Linked DNA regions of Homo sapiens. The protein of the gene in region 1 purifies or fractionates together with the protein of each later gene. This does not show direct contact. Each region holds a gene or a part of one and is shown in the gene's direction. Other genes may lie near its edges.

Region 1 (3,500 bases):
TGCCAGCTCTTGAGGCCACACTTAGACTAAGATGTCAGAGAAGTCAGTCTCAGGTGCAGGAGTCAAGAAAAAATAGATTGGGTAGAGAATAAGAGCAATTTTGAGAGCCTGATGGAAAAACCAAGCAGACATTACCAAAGGATGAAGGACACGAGCCTCATGCTTTTACTAAGCTGTATGAGTGACATGGGGAAGCAACTTATGTTGTTAGTGAAAGGTTCTTTCTTTCTCGCTCTCTTTTTTTTTTTTTTTTGAGACAGAGTCTCACTTTGTTGCCTAGGCTGGAGTGCAGTGGCGCAATCTCAGCTCACTGCAACCTCGGCCTCCTGGATTCAAGCGATTCTCAAGACTCAGCCTCCTGAATAGCTGGGACTACAGGTGCCCGCCACCACGGCTGGCTAATTTTTGTATTTTTTGTAGAGATGGGGTTTCGCCATGTAGGCCAGGTTGGTCTCGAACTCCTGAACTCAAGTGATCTGCCTAGGATTACAGGCGTGAGCTACCGTGCCCGGCCGGGAAAGGTTGTTTTTAAATTTTTTTTTACTTTTATCTTTTTGAGGGTCTCCCTCTGTTACCCAGGCTGGAGTGCAGTGGTGCAGTCACTGCTCACTGAAGCCTCAGCCCCTTGAGCTTGTGCCATCCTCCCACCTCAGCCTCTCATGTATCTGGGACTGCAGGGGCATGCCACCGTGCCCAGCTAATTTTTTAAAATTGTATTTTATAGTTATGGGGTCTCACAATGTTGCCCAGGTTGGCTTTGAACTTGGGCCCAAGTGATTCTGCTGCCTAGGCCTATTGTACTTGCATGATGGAAATGGAATATAAAGGCCTGTGTTGTTTTAATCCACATTTATGGACAAGTTAGTCTCCTGTTGTCATCTGTGTCTTCTGAAGGAGTCACCTGTTTGGTTAAATAAATTCTGGCCGTTTTCTCTTAATTCATTTGCCTGAAAAAAAAATTTTTATTCTACCTCTCCTTTGAACAGCATCCTGGTGGGGAAGAAGTTTTAAGGGAACAAGCTGGAGGTGACGCTACTGAGAACTTTGAGGATGTCGGGCACTCTACAGATGCCAGGGAAATGTCCAAAACATTCATCATTGGGGAGCTCCATCCAGTAAGTACATTTTGGGGGCCCTTTCTTATTTGTATTTAAGGCTATCAGATGACCTTACCCTAGTCTGTAAGCTTGCATGTATACACATTTTAAAAGGAGTAAAGCAAAAACAACTCCTGATTTTAGGACACCATTTTTTGTTATAAATAAATTGACCAAAAATGTCTTTGCATTTCACTGTTGCTTTTTTTTTTTTTTTTTTGAGACAGGTCTTACTCTGTCACCCAGGCTGGAGTGCAGTGGCACGATCATGGCTCCCTGCAGCCTCAACCTCCTGGGCTCAAGCCATCCTCCTGCCTCAGCCTCTTGGTAGCTGGGACTACAGGCACACACCTCCACGCCTGATAAATTTCATAGTTTTTGTAGAGACGGGGTTTCACCGTGTTGCCCAGGCTGGTCTCAAACTCCTGGACTCAAGCGATCCACCCACCTCGGCCTCTCAAAGTGTTGGGATTACAGGCGTGAGCCCCCACACCTGGCCTGGTTGCATTGTTTACTGGCACTTCGTTTTAGTCAGCAGGCTCCACCCCACAGCCATGCACTGGGGAGTCTGCTCAGTCCTAGAAATTCCATGGGGCAGCACGTTTTACAAGGTGGGGAGAATCAACCCAGCATTGCTTTCTTTCCTTTTCTGACCAAAATATTTTTATTAAGAACCCCACTTCTACTTTCATTAGGCCAAGGATATTTTAGTTCTAAAAAATGATTTAAAAAATATAAAAACGGAGCTATGTGAAATGAATAAGCTCTGCCTTCTGTAGAACTAGCACATTGTCCATATTCTACTCACTGTACCCCAGACCTTCGAGAATATCAGCTCTGGACCAATTCATTGACCAACTTTTGGAAAACACTGGCCTAATTTGGCTTTTCTTTTCTTTTTTTTTTTTTTTGAGACAGAGTCTTGCTCTGTTGCCCAGGCTGGAGTGCAGTGGCGCGATCTCGGCCCACTGCAACCTCCACCTCCTGGGTTCAAGCAATTCTCCTGCCTTAGCCTCCCAAGTATCTGGGATTACAGGCACAGGCCACCATGCCTGGCCAATTGTTTTGTATTTTTAGTAGAGATGGGGTTTCGCCATGTTGGCCAGGTTGGCCTTGTACTCCTGACCTCAGGTAATCCACCTACCTAGGCCTCCCAGAGTGCTAGGATTACAGGTGTGAGTCACCGCACCTAGTCCTAATTTGGCTTTTCTATAAACACTGTGCTGTGTTACGGTTTTAGACCCCTCTGTGGCAGTTGTAAATGACCATGTTAAATGTTACTAGTCTGTCAACCTAAGTTATCAGGAAAATCGCTGAAAACTTGGAAAGAAGTTGCCGAGCGCTCTGAGCTTCTGGAGTGGATCCTGGGGCCGCACACTCAGCTGCCCTGTCCACCTCTGGGAGTGCCTGGCTCCGTCCTGCCTTCCCACTTGTGGTGCATGGTTAGCAGCCCGCCAGAAGGGGACAAAGACCTGCTAGGAGCCCGCTCTGCTCTCGTAAGAAAAAAATGGAGAGGCAAATAGCCTCATTCTAAGTGAGCAAACTGAGAAACTCTTAAAGAATATAGGAAAAGTCTTATCGTATACCACTGATGATCCCTGTAATGACTGTGAATGAAGAAGAGGTTACATTAGGTTCTTTGTAGAAGGCTCGAAAGTAGGAAATCCATTTGAGAACAACTTCATTGAGTTGGGAGGTTTGTTTGATTTTGTTTTTGGTGGTAGGAGATATGTACTTTGAGGGAGTAAGCTTCATTCATCTGACAAGTTTATTTGCCCCGATATTTTCATCCCATACTTCACAAAGGCAAAGTGTCTTAGGGTCATCAGGGAGGCCTGCCGTTACACATGCCTGATCCCATCCTTGTTTCCAGCTGTGGGTCAGGTTTCAGGCCCTGACTGTGGCACTTCTGCTTCACCTGCCCACTGGGCTTCCCCCTGGCCAGCCTTTAAACACACTGTATTTTTGACAGCTTCAGCCTGAAGTTGAAATAGTTTATGACTCTAAAACTGGGAGACTGCAGGGCTTAACTGAAGATATCATACACGTAAGAGATACATGCACAATCTCAAATGGAATTTGAGAGGACAGAAGGGAAGAATCAGTCTTCAGCTCCTCCCTGAATTACGTGTCGCAATCTGAGTCTAATAAATGTGTGTGCACATCAGCATGTACAGAGAGCTGTCATGGGTGCTGTTCGAAACTTTGGAACTCTAGATAGAAAATATCTCTTGGCACTTAATCTGCTACTAATTTTTGCTGTTAAATCAGATGGATCAAACTTTGTGTTTAATAGCTAAATGTTGAATCTGAAATGGTAATTACTGAATTATAATTTTAAAAAGTCTCAAAGTCAGCATTTTGGAAGTGGTACTTTCATAGATTTTTAAATTCCATAATGTG
Region 2 (3,500 bases), on another chromosome or scaffold:
GCATTGTGTGCCTAAATCTGAGCTGCTTCTTGGATAGAAACCTTCGGGTTTTCCCTTAGTGCTCCCCTTGGGGTCCCTTTCAAAGCCCCCCACCCCCCACTGCATGCTCAGGGAGGAGGGTTCTCTGGACAGAGGTGTGAATTGTGTCTCTAGTTCCCAGGGGACCACATCTTTCCGTTGTTTGTCCCTTGCCTCCATCATCCAGGGTTGGGGAGCTGCTGGGTAACCTTTCTGGGGAAGGGGAGAGGCTCGAACAGGGAGGGAGGGGAGAGCTGGTCTCAGGGAGGAACAAGTGGCATGACCTAAGGCCCAAAGGCAGAGATATTGACTTGCCTCGTCATTGTTGTTGAAAGCCAGGAAGCCAAGCTGCTGAGGGTGGCAGCCTATGACAGGAAAGCGCCTCTCCCCTCTCTTAGGGCACCCTACAATATCAGGCGCAGCTCTACATCAGGGGACACCGAGGAGGAGGAGGAGGAGGAGGTGGTGCCATTCTCCTCAGATGAACAGAAACGGAGGTAATGGAATGGTGCCTTTTGGGCATCCCGGGGGGCAGGGCAGGAGCCTGAGTCTTCGAAGACTGCTGGAATGAATTGTACTGGTTGGGGTGACAAAATGCACAACACGTAGGCCATCAGCGGTAGCCCACGGAGCATGAGAATAGGTGTCATTCTCTGAGTGCCAGAACCACCCACTCAGTGTTGGACCAGCTGAGGGGCCCTTGAGAACCTTCTGTGGGGTAGAACCTAGGTAATGTGGGTCCGGGGAAAAGCCTCCTCATGTGGAGGCTCTTCAGGGCTCTAAATCGGTTTGTTAGAAAGGGCCCTGAGACAGTTGAACAAAAATATTCAGGGAGAAGCCACCTGCACAGTGCCCTCTATCTGCATGATCTGCATGCCTTGGGGGTTCTGAATGCCCCGGACCCCAAACTGAGCTCCAGGCATGCACAGCAGTGGGAGTGTGCCCCATGCTGCTGAAATTCTACCCTAGTCTCTGCGCCAAGCTGCCCTCGTCCACACAGGCCAGCAAAGTTCCATGGACCCTTGCCCCTCCTCAGTCCTCTGTCCATGGGGACTGACCACATACCACCCAGTGCTGGTGAACTATGACAGGAAGGGTTTGTTAAGCACCTTTTGTATGCCTTTGGCTTGGGGCCTGTACAGCAGTTGGGCCCTGAGGAAATAAAGCCCTCCCCTCCCTGGGCTCAGCCAGCCACCAGGTCCATATCTGCTGACCCATCTGTGGCGCAGGAATCACAGCAAAGCCCCATTGCCAAAGGCCCTGGCAGATTGGCTATCCTCAGGGAACAGTTCACAGTGGCAGGGGCCCCCAGGCCTGGGTGGAGCAAGGAAAAGAGCCAGAAGCTAGGAGCTGCCTAGCATTGAATGCCAGCTCTGCCACCTGCTAGGTGAGTGCTCTTGGGCAAATAATGAAAGCTTCTTGGACTCAGTTTCCTCATCTGTAAATCACAGAGGATACTAGCGTCTACTTTCCTGGATTGAGAAGAGCAATAAGCCAATGCGAGGATGTTGGCATCTGGCGCAGAGCCGGGCACATGCCACATGCTCCATAAACATGGGCTGCCCTTCCTTCAGGTTCTACATTTCCTTTGAATAGTCCTTGGAGCAGGTGCAAATCTGGTTTCTCTCACCCCTTGCCTCCCTGGGGTGGCCCTAAGTCACCCCGAGTCCATCCCAGGCTAGGCTGGCAGAGCATGTCCAGCTTGGCACCCATCAGATGCTCCCCCATCCCGTGTCACCCCAGGTCAGAGGCTGCAAGCGGTGTTCTGAGGAGGACAGCTCCCCGGGAGCACTCCTACGTCCTGTCAGCGGCCAAGAAGAGCACTGGGTGAGTTGCCACCAACTGGCTCCAGGCTCTAGGACAGCTCTCCTCTCCTCAGAGCTCCAGCCTTCTCTGGCTGATGAAAGGGTGGGTGGAGAGATCACCCCCAAGGGCCTTCCTAGCTGAGCCTTCTCAGATTCTCAGATGTACTTTCTAGAAAATGGAGAGGTCTGGCGGCTACCACCAGGGACAGTGAAGTGCCGGGAATGGAGAGGGCCCAGGACCCTCTGAGGTAGAGCGGTCTTGATGTCACCTGCCCACGGGCTCTGCCCAAAGCATTGCCTTTCTGCTTCCTTTCCAGCAGTCCTACCCAGGAGACACAGGCACCGTTTATCGCGAAGAGGTAAGTGTCATCAAGGGACACCTTGGAGGCCTGTTACTGGCCACAGGAAGGCCTTCCGTCAGCAGGGGTGTAGTGTGGGAGCTGTGGAGAGGGGATGTGGATGTGGGGGACTACTGTCCCTGAGCAGGGGGAGTTGTGAGGGGCTGGGGGCTTCTGTCTGGAGGCCTGGCAAGCACCTGGGTGGCTGTGGTAGCATATGTGGTCAAGCTCTTCCATTTGCCAATGGCTAATGGGGCTGGGCCCCTGACCCAACGTGGAGCATTTCCAAGGCCCTCTGGGAGTTGTTCCCCTGCCCCTGTTGCTTGCCTGATGCCTTGCCTTCTGCTCTCATCCAGGATCAAAACCTGGGCCATCAGGAGAACTTCCCCTGGGAGGTGACTGTGACATTGGAGATGGGCCCTAAAGGGTGAACAGGGCTTAACAGGGAATGATCAGAACGTCGGGATACTCCAGCTGAATGAGGGAGGGGTGTCACCATTAGTTGAGACAGGGCACCTTCTGGAGGAGGAAAATATTCGGGGGAAAGCAAGAAAGAAACTTCTGGAAACTTGAATTTGAGGGACTTCCAGTTGAGTGGACAGGGAAGGCCTCTCTCTGTGCTGAGGTGGCTAGCTGGGGACTGCAAACCCAAGAGAAGACAGCATGCCAACTGCCCCAGGCAGAGGGCCCCAGTGCACAGGCCCGGGGTGGGACTAGCTTGCTGTGTTGGAAGACCAGGAAGTTGGCAGGAATACAGAGAGCAGGGATGGTGGCAGCACAAAGGAAGTGACAGAGAACGGGGGGCGGTGGGGGGGTCTTCCTGGCTGCATTTGGTTCCTGTGGTTTCTGTAACGCAGTACCAAAAACTGAGTGGCTTAAAACATCAGAAAGGGATTCTCTCCCGGTTCTGGAGACCAGAAGTCTAGATCAAGGTGTTAGCAGGGTGGGTTCCTTCTGGAGGCTTTGAGGGAGAAACCATCCCAGGCCACTCTCCTGGCTTCTGCTGGTGGTTGGTGATCCTTGGTGTTCCTCGGCTTGTACCTGCATCACTCCAGTCTGTGCGTCTGTCTTCACATGGCCTTCTCTTCTCTGTGTGTCTGTGTCCAGATTTCCCTCTTCTTACAAGGACAGCGGTCATTGGATTTAGGACCCATCCTACTCCAGTATGACCTCATCTTACCTGATTACATCTGCAAAGACCCTATTTCCAAATAAGGTTACAGTCACAGGTTCCAGGGGACATGAATTTTGGGGGGACACTATTCAACCCAGTATGCTGTCCTTATCCTGAGCTGGAGTCACTGAACCCCCAGCCTGGGCCACCTCTTGGCCGTGATCC
Region 3 (3,500 bases), on another chromosome or scaffold:
AGTCCCCCAGCACTGTCACCAGCCTCCCCCCTTATCTGCACCGCTGCTCCTGAACATCCCCCACCCCCAGCGCCTCCTGCCATCTTAGCCTCCTGCCATCTCTAGCAAGGCAGGGAAAGGAAAGGTTTATGGCTCCAGCTGTTGGAAGAATGTGTGAGCACCTCCAGCCCCTCTGCAGTACGAGGCAGCCTCAGAGGTTAATTATTAGTGTCGCTAAAATGACTTCCCTGAGCGACTAGGTGAATTCACAGGAGACTGGAGGAAGAAACCTCCCCCGTCCCTCGGAGGCTGTCACGTTGAATTCTGGTCTAGCAAAACTGGATGCGCTGCCTGGTGCACTGCATGTGACTGAGCGAAATCCTTTTCAAGTCGTTTGTTCTGTCTGGCTCAGAAAACAAAACTAATCAGACTTGCCCCATAAATTGAAACCTAAGACTGGGACCAAGGCAGGATTTTGTATGTTTTCTTTTTTTGGGGGGTAGGGGGATACTGGAATCTTACTCTATTGCCCAGGCTGGAGTACAGTGGCGCGATCTCGGCTCACTGCAACCTCTGCCTCCCGGGTTCAAGCGATTCTCCTGCCTCAGCCTCCTGAGTAGCTGGGATTACAGGCGCCTGCCACCACGCCCGGCTAATTTTTTGTATTTTTAGTAGAGACGGGGTTTTGCCACATTGGCCAGGTTGGTCTCGAACTCCTGGCCTCAAGTGATCCACCTGCCTTGGCCTCCCAAGGTGCTGGGATTACAGGCATGAGCCACCACACCCAACCAGATGTTTGGGTTCTGAATTCGCATCTAGAACCTTCTTCCTTTCACCCTGAGAGCCCCCCCGCCTCCCCATCGGTCCACATCAGCCTATCCGGTAGCATGAAGGCTGCAAGCTAGAGGGGAGGGGCCTGGCTTTTCGGGCTGCTGGACAGGATATGGAGGGACAGAGAGGGCAGCACTTCCAGAATAGCAGCTGAGGATCTCTCTATGCCTCCCTCACTGGGTCCTTTAGTTAGTGGAGGTCGATAAGAGGCCAGCCAGCTCTGCCCGACACCTGCTGGATTCAGGAACCAAGAGGTTGCTCCCCCATGGGGCTTTTCCCTCTGGAAGCTCAGCTTTTCTCTCCTCACCGTGGCTCATGTGCCCGGAGCCTGTGTCCACTCCAGGCCACAGGTCCTGGCTTCCTCTGTGCCCACCACCTACCCATCCATGTGCCCTCTTCAGGCCTCGAGATCTGTCCGTTTTTTGCAGGCAGCAATGGGGGGTCTCCCCTCGGGGACTGGCAAATCGGGCTCTGCCTCTTCAGCGGTACACACGTCAAACCTGCTGCAGCAAATCCCGCATCCCTGGCCTGGCCACTGTGGGCTGCCTGGATGCGTGTTTTCAGATTTCCAATAGCCACAGGGGGTGGGGGGATGACACAAGCCTCCCCAAGCCCAGGCAGGCGTGGTGTGTGTCCCAAGATGAGCTGTGCTCTGCTTGCCGGAGTTGTCGCCTCTGAGCTCAGTAGCCGAGAGGACCTGCTGGGCAGGGCCAGGGCAAGGCAGAGCACTGCAGATGTTGGGAGGGATGTGGCATCTGGAGACAGCTGTGGACTAGGAGTAGGACTGCTTTCTCTCTGGCTGTCTCGTTGTAGGATTTAAGGGAAAGCTATGGAACGAGAGGGGGTATAGGCGCTGGGGTGAGATGTCTCTGATAGCCAGATGTGGCCTCTGCTTGAGGTGTTTCTTTTTAAACCTAGGGAAAGGGGGCCGGGGTTTGTGGGGCCAGCCTCTACAGCACTCCTGGCACTTACTGGGTCCCCCCTCCACAGGAGAAGGCTTCTCCTTCAAATACAGCCCCGGGAAGCTGAGGGGAAACCAGTACAAGAAGATGATGACCAAAGAGGAGCTGGAGGAGGAGCAGAGGTAGGCTGCAGCCCCTTCGCTGGCGCCTGGCGGGCTCTTGGGGGAGGGGGGTGCCCCTCTGAGCCCTTCATGTTCCTGCCCCTTGGCAGAAGGGCCCAGAAAGGAGGTGGGGCTCCTACACGCTCTGCCCAACCACCGCCCCACCTTCCCAGTTTAGGAGTTCTTTCCTGCCCTGGTCAGCCAGGCTCGCACACCCCTGGCACCCCTCCCTGGCACTGACCAGAAGGAGGCCACTGGTGATGGGGGATACAGAGCCCATTTACTGCACCCCCCCACCCCCTCCACACCCCACTGCCCCCATCTAAAGAAATGAGATGCCAGGAAAGAGCCTGGAGCAGACCTGGCTGTCACTCACACACACAGTCCCCAACAGAGCTGATTTCTCCATTTCTCCTTCGGGACACAGCGGATTCTTGGTGCTCATCCTTCAGCGGCCTCCCAGGCCGGCGCCTGCAGCAGCGCCTTGTAGCTCCGGGCAGTGCAGCTATGGCTTCTCGTTGTTGGAATTGGCTCCCCCTTCCCATTTGGACACCCCCTGCACAGCCACTGGGCACCCCGCCACCTTTTCCCTCCACACCATCCTGCTGGGCGGGGAAGGGGTGCGCTGGGCACAGTGGGACAGCTGGGGAGGTCTCAGCAGAGGGACAGTCCTTTGCACCAGGCGCAGCAGGCTCCTGGTGCTCACCCACACTGCTGCCCTTCTGCAGCGTGGCCTGGAGTCCTTTGGTTAAAGCAGAAGTCTAGGTGGTAGCTGTGCCATTTTCCAAGCCTGGCGACCCAGAGCAGCTTGTGGGAATCACCCCCTACTTGTCAGCAGAAACCAGCGGTCTAGGGTCCGAGCAGGAGGGGTGGTTTATGATTTTGGAATCAGAACTCAACTGCCCTCTCATGGCTGCATGCCAAGCCACCCGCCGGGCAGCCCTCTAACCTCACAGCTGCTCTGCCGGTGACAGGCCCTGTCTCCCCTCCCGCTGCTGGCATCAGCGCTCTCGACCCTCAGCAGGAAAGCTCTTCACCCTGGGTGGGTGGGGGGCGGGCAGTGTAAGCACAGCCAGGAGGAAGAGCCCTGGCAGGAGCCCCGAGTCCTCAGGTGCTGAGGATGCTGCCGCTTGGCATGACCAGGTTTGCTGCATTTATATTTCAGGATTGAGCTGACCTCTGACCTCACTTCCCTGTAGCAAGTTCCTTAGGTCCTGAGCCACAAATATTCTTGCAAATCCTTTTGGTAAGGACACTGATTTCTTAGACTAGTGGTGCTCCCCTTCTACTGCGTGCTAACGTGCCCCCAAACAACTGACGCGGCCTCAACCTCCCCTCCTCCATCGCCTTCATAACCGATTAATACATTTCCCACCTGAGCCCTTCTCATTCTTCTCAAGCACGAGGAATCTCTGGCAGAAGAGGCCCCGTCTGGGGGCAGAGGTTCCTGGAGGGGAGTTAAGTCCCTGAGTTCCTGGAGGGGGCCTAATGGGCCGGCAGGTTGGGGTGCTAGCGCCCCCTCGCAAGGCTGGGGGAACTGTCACCCTGGGACCTCAGGCTTCGGAAATGTGGATGTCGTCACCCTGCAGCCTTGGGTCTCACCCTGAGAAGATGAGGCAGCTTCTGC
Region 4 (3,500 bases), on another chromosome or scaffold:
AATGGGATGGCTGGGTCAAATGGTATTTCTAGTTCTAGATCCCTGAGGAATCGCCACACTGTCTTCCACAATGGTTGAACTAGTTTACAGTCCCACCACCAGTGTAAAAGTGTTCCTATTTCTCCACATCCTCTCCAGCACCTGTTGTTTCCTGACTTTTTAATGATTGACATTCTAACTGGTGTGAGATGGTATCTCATTGTGGTTTTGATTTGCATTTCTCTGATGGCCCATGATGATGAGCATTTTTTTCATGTGTCTGTTGGATGCATGGATGTCTTCTTTTGAGAAGTGTCTCTTCATATCCTTCACCTACTTTTTGATGGGGTTTGTTTTTTTCTTGTAAGTTTGTTTGAGTTCCTTGTAGATTCTGGATATTAGCCCTTTGTCAGATGAGTAGATTGCAAAAATTTTCTCCCATTTTGTAGGTTGCCTGTTCACTCTGATGGTAGTTTCTTTTGCTGTGCAGAAGCTCTTGAGTTTAATGAGATCCCATTTGTCAATTTTGGCTTCTGTTGCCATTGCTTTTGGTGTTTTAGACATGAAGTCCTTGCCCATGCCTGTGTCCTGAATGGTACTGCATAGGTTTTCTTCTAGGGTTTTTATGGTTTTAGGTCTAACATTTAAGTCTTTAATCCATCTTGAATTAATTTTTGTATAAGGTGTAAGGAAGGGATCCAGTTTCAGCTTTCTACATGTGGCTAGCCAGTTTTCCCAGCACCATTTATTAAATAGGGAATCCTTTCCCCATTTCTTGTTTTTGTCAGGTTTCTCAAAGATCAGATAGTTGTAGATGTGTGGTATTATTTCTGAGGGCTCTGTTCTGTTCCATTGGTCTATATCTCTGTTTTGGTACTAGTACCATGCTGTTTTGGTTACTGCAGCCTTGTAGTATAGTTTGAAATCAGGTAGCGTGATGCCTCCAGCTTTGTTCTTTTGGCTTAGGATCGTTTTGGCAGTGCAGGCTCTTTTTTGGTTCCACATGAACTTTAAAGTAGTTTTTTCCAATTCTATGAAGAAAGTCATGGGTAGCTTGATGGGGATGGCATTGAATCTATAAATTACCTTGGGCAGTATAGCCATTTTCACGATATTGATTCTTCCTATCCATGAGCATGGAATGTTCTTCCATTTGTTTGTGTCCTCTTTTATTTCCTTGAGCAGTGGTTTGTAGTTCTCCTTGAAGAGGTCCTTCACATCCCTTGTAAGTTGGATTCCTAGGTATTTTATTCTCTTTGAGGCAGTTGTGAATGGGAGTTCACTCATGATTTGGCTCTCTGTTTGTCTGTTGTTGGTGTATAAGAATGCTTGTGATTTTTGCACATTGATTTTGTATCCTGAGATTTTGCTGAAGTTGCTTATCAAATTAAGGAGATTTTGGGCTGAGATGATGGGGTTTTCTAAATATAAAATCATGTCATCTGCAAACAGGGACAATTTGACTTCCTCTTTTCCTTATTGAATACCCTTTATTTCTTTCTCCTGCCTGATGGCCCTGGCCAGAACTTCCAACACTATGTTGAATAGGAGTGGTGAGAGAGGGCATCCCTGTCTTGTGCCAGTTTTCAAAGGGAATGCTTCCAGTTTTTGCCCATTCAGTCTGATATTGGCTGTGGGTTTGTCATAGATAGCTCTTATTATTTTGAGATATGTCCCATCAATACCTAATTCATTGAGAGTTTTTAGCATGAAGGGCTGTTGAATTTTGTCCAAGGCCTTTTCTGCATCTGTTGAGATAATCATGTGGTTTTTGTCTTTGGTTCTGTTTATATGCTGGATTACTTTTATTGATTTGTGTATGTTGAACCAGCCTTGCATCCCAGGGATGAAGCCCACTTGATCATGGTGGATAAGCTTTTTGATATGCTGCTGGATTCAGTTTGCCAGTATTTTATTGAGGATTTTTGCATTGATTTTCATCAGGGATATTGGTCTAAAGTTCTCTTTTTTTGTTATGTCTCTGCCAGGCTTTGGTATCAGGATGATGCTGGCTTCATAAAATGAGTTAGGGAGGATTCCCTCTTTTTCTATTGATTGGAATAGTTTCAGAAGGAATGGTACCAGCTCTTCCTTGTACCTCTGGTAGAATTCGGCTGTGAATCCATCTTGTCCTGGACTTTTTTTGGTTGGTAGGCTATTAATTATTGCCTCAATTTCAGAGCCTGTTATTGGTCTATTCAGGGATTAAACTTCTTCCTGGTTTAGTTTTGAGAGGGTGTATGTGTCCAGGAATTTATCTATTTCTTCTAGATTTTCTAGTTTATTTGCATAGAGGTGTTTATAGTATTCTCTGTGTACTCTGTATTTCTGTGGGATTGGTGGTGATATCCACTTTATCATTTTTTATTGCATTTATTTGATTCTTCTCTCTTTTCTTGTTTATTAGTCTTGCTAGCGGTCTATCAATTGTGTTTATCTTTTCAAAAAACCAGCTCCTGGATTCATTCATTTTTTGAAGGTTTTTTTGTGTCTCTGTCTCCTTCAGTTCTGCTCTGATCTTAGTTATTTCTTGTCTTCTGCTAGCTGTTGAATGTGTTTGCTCTTGCTTCTCTAATATTTTTAATTGTGATGTTAGAGTGTCAATTTTAGATCTTTCCTGCTTTCTCTTGTGGGCACTTAGTGCTGTAAATTTCCCTCTACACACTGCTTTAAATGTGTCCCAGAGATTCTGGTATGTTGTGTCTTTGTTCTCGTTGGTTTCAAAGAACATCTTTATTTCTGCCTTCATTTTGTTATGTACCCAGTAGTCATTCAGGAGCAGGTTGTTCAGTTTCCATGTAGCTGAGTGGTTTTGAGTGAGTTTCTTAATCCTGAGTTCTAGTTTGATTGCACTGTGGTCTGAGACAGTATGTTATAATTTCTGTTCTTTTACATTTGCTGAGGAGTGCTTTACTTCCAACTATGTGGTCAATTTTGGAATAGGTGCGATGTGGTGCTGAGAAGAATGTATATTCTGTTGATTTGGGGTGGAGAGTTCTGTAGATGTCTATTAGGTCTGCTTGGTGCAGAGCTGAATTCAATTCCTGGATATCCTTGTTAACTTTCTGTCTCGTTGATCTGTCTAATATTGACAGTGGGGTGTTAGAGTCTCCCATTGTTATTGTGTGGGAGTCTAAATCTCTTTGTAGGTCTCTAAGGACTTGGTTTATGAATCTGGGTGCTCCTGTATTGGGTGCATATATATTTAAGATAGTTAGCTCTTCTTGTTGAATTGATCCCTTTACTATCATGTAATGGCCTTCTTTGTCTCTTTTGATCTTTGTTGGTTTAAAGTCTGTTTTATCAGAGACTAGGATTGCAACCCCGGCCTTTTTTTTTGTTTTCCGTTTGCTTGGTAGATCTTCCTCCATCCTTTTATTTTGAGCCTATGTGTGTGTGTCTCTGTACGTGAGATGGGTTTCCTGAATACAGCACCCTGATGGGTCTTGACTCTTTATCCAGTGTGCCAGTCTGTGTCTTTTAATTGGAGCATTTAGCCCATTTACATTTAAGGTTAATAT

The links. Proteins that work in one complex are often made in the same cells at the same time.
Region 2: the proteins of CYB5A (region 1) and ZNF185 purify together in Homo sapiens (co-immunoprecipitation; one large-scale study listed by IntAct). This does not show direct contact.
Region 3: the proteins of CYB5A (region 1) and MXRA7 fractionate together in Homo sapiens (co-fractionation; one large-scale study listed by BioGRID). This does not show direct contact.
Region 4: the proteins of CYB5A (region 1) and SOD2 fractionate together in Homo sapiens (co-fractionation; one large-scale study listed by BioGRID). This does not show direct contact.

What each region holds. Positions count from the first base shown.
Region 1 is NC_000018.10:74,260,964-74,264,463, reverse strand, and holds part of CYB5A (cytochrome b5), read left to right. Parts: intron 1-986; coding exon 987-1,115; intron 1,116-3,500.
Region 2 is NC_000023.11:152,918,567-152,922,066, forward strand, and holds part of ZNF185 (zinc finger protein 185), read left to right. Parts: intron 1-416; coding exon 417-515; intron 516-1,761; coding exon 1,762-1,845; intron 1,846-2,140; coding exon 2,141-2,182; intron 2,183-3,500. UniProt on the Homo sapiens protein: May be involved in the regulation of cellular proliferation and/or differentiation.
Region 3 is NC_000017.11:76,683,466-76,686,965, reverse strand, and holds part of MXRA7 (matrix-remodeling-associated protein 7), read left to right. Parts: intron 1-1,800; coding exon 1,801-1,894; intron 1,895-3,038; coding exon of another isoform or gene 3,039-3,072; exon of another isoform or gene 3,073-3,119; intron 3,120-3,500.
Region 4 is NC_000006.12:159,672,742-159,676,241, reverse strand, and holds part of SOD2 (superoxide dismutase [Mn], mitochondrial isoform A precursor), read left to right. Parts: 3' UTR 1-3,500. UniProt on the Homo sapiens protein: Destroys superoxide anion radicals which are normally produced within the cells and which are toxic to biological systems.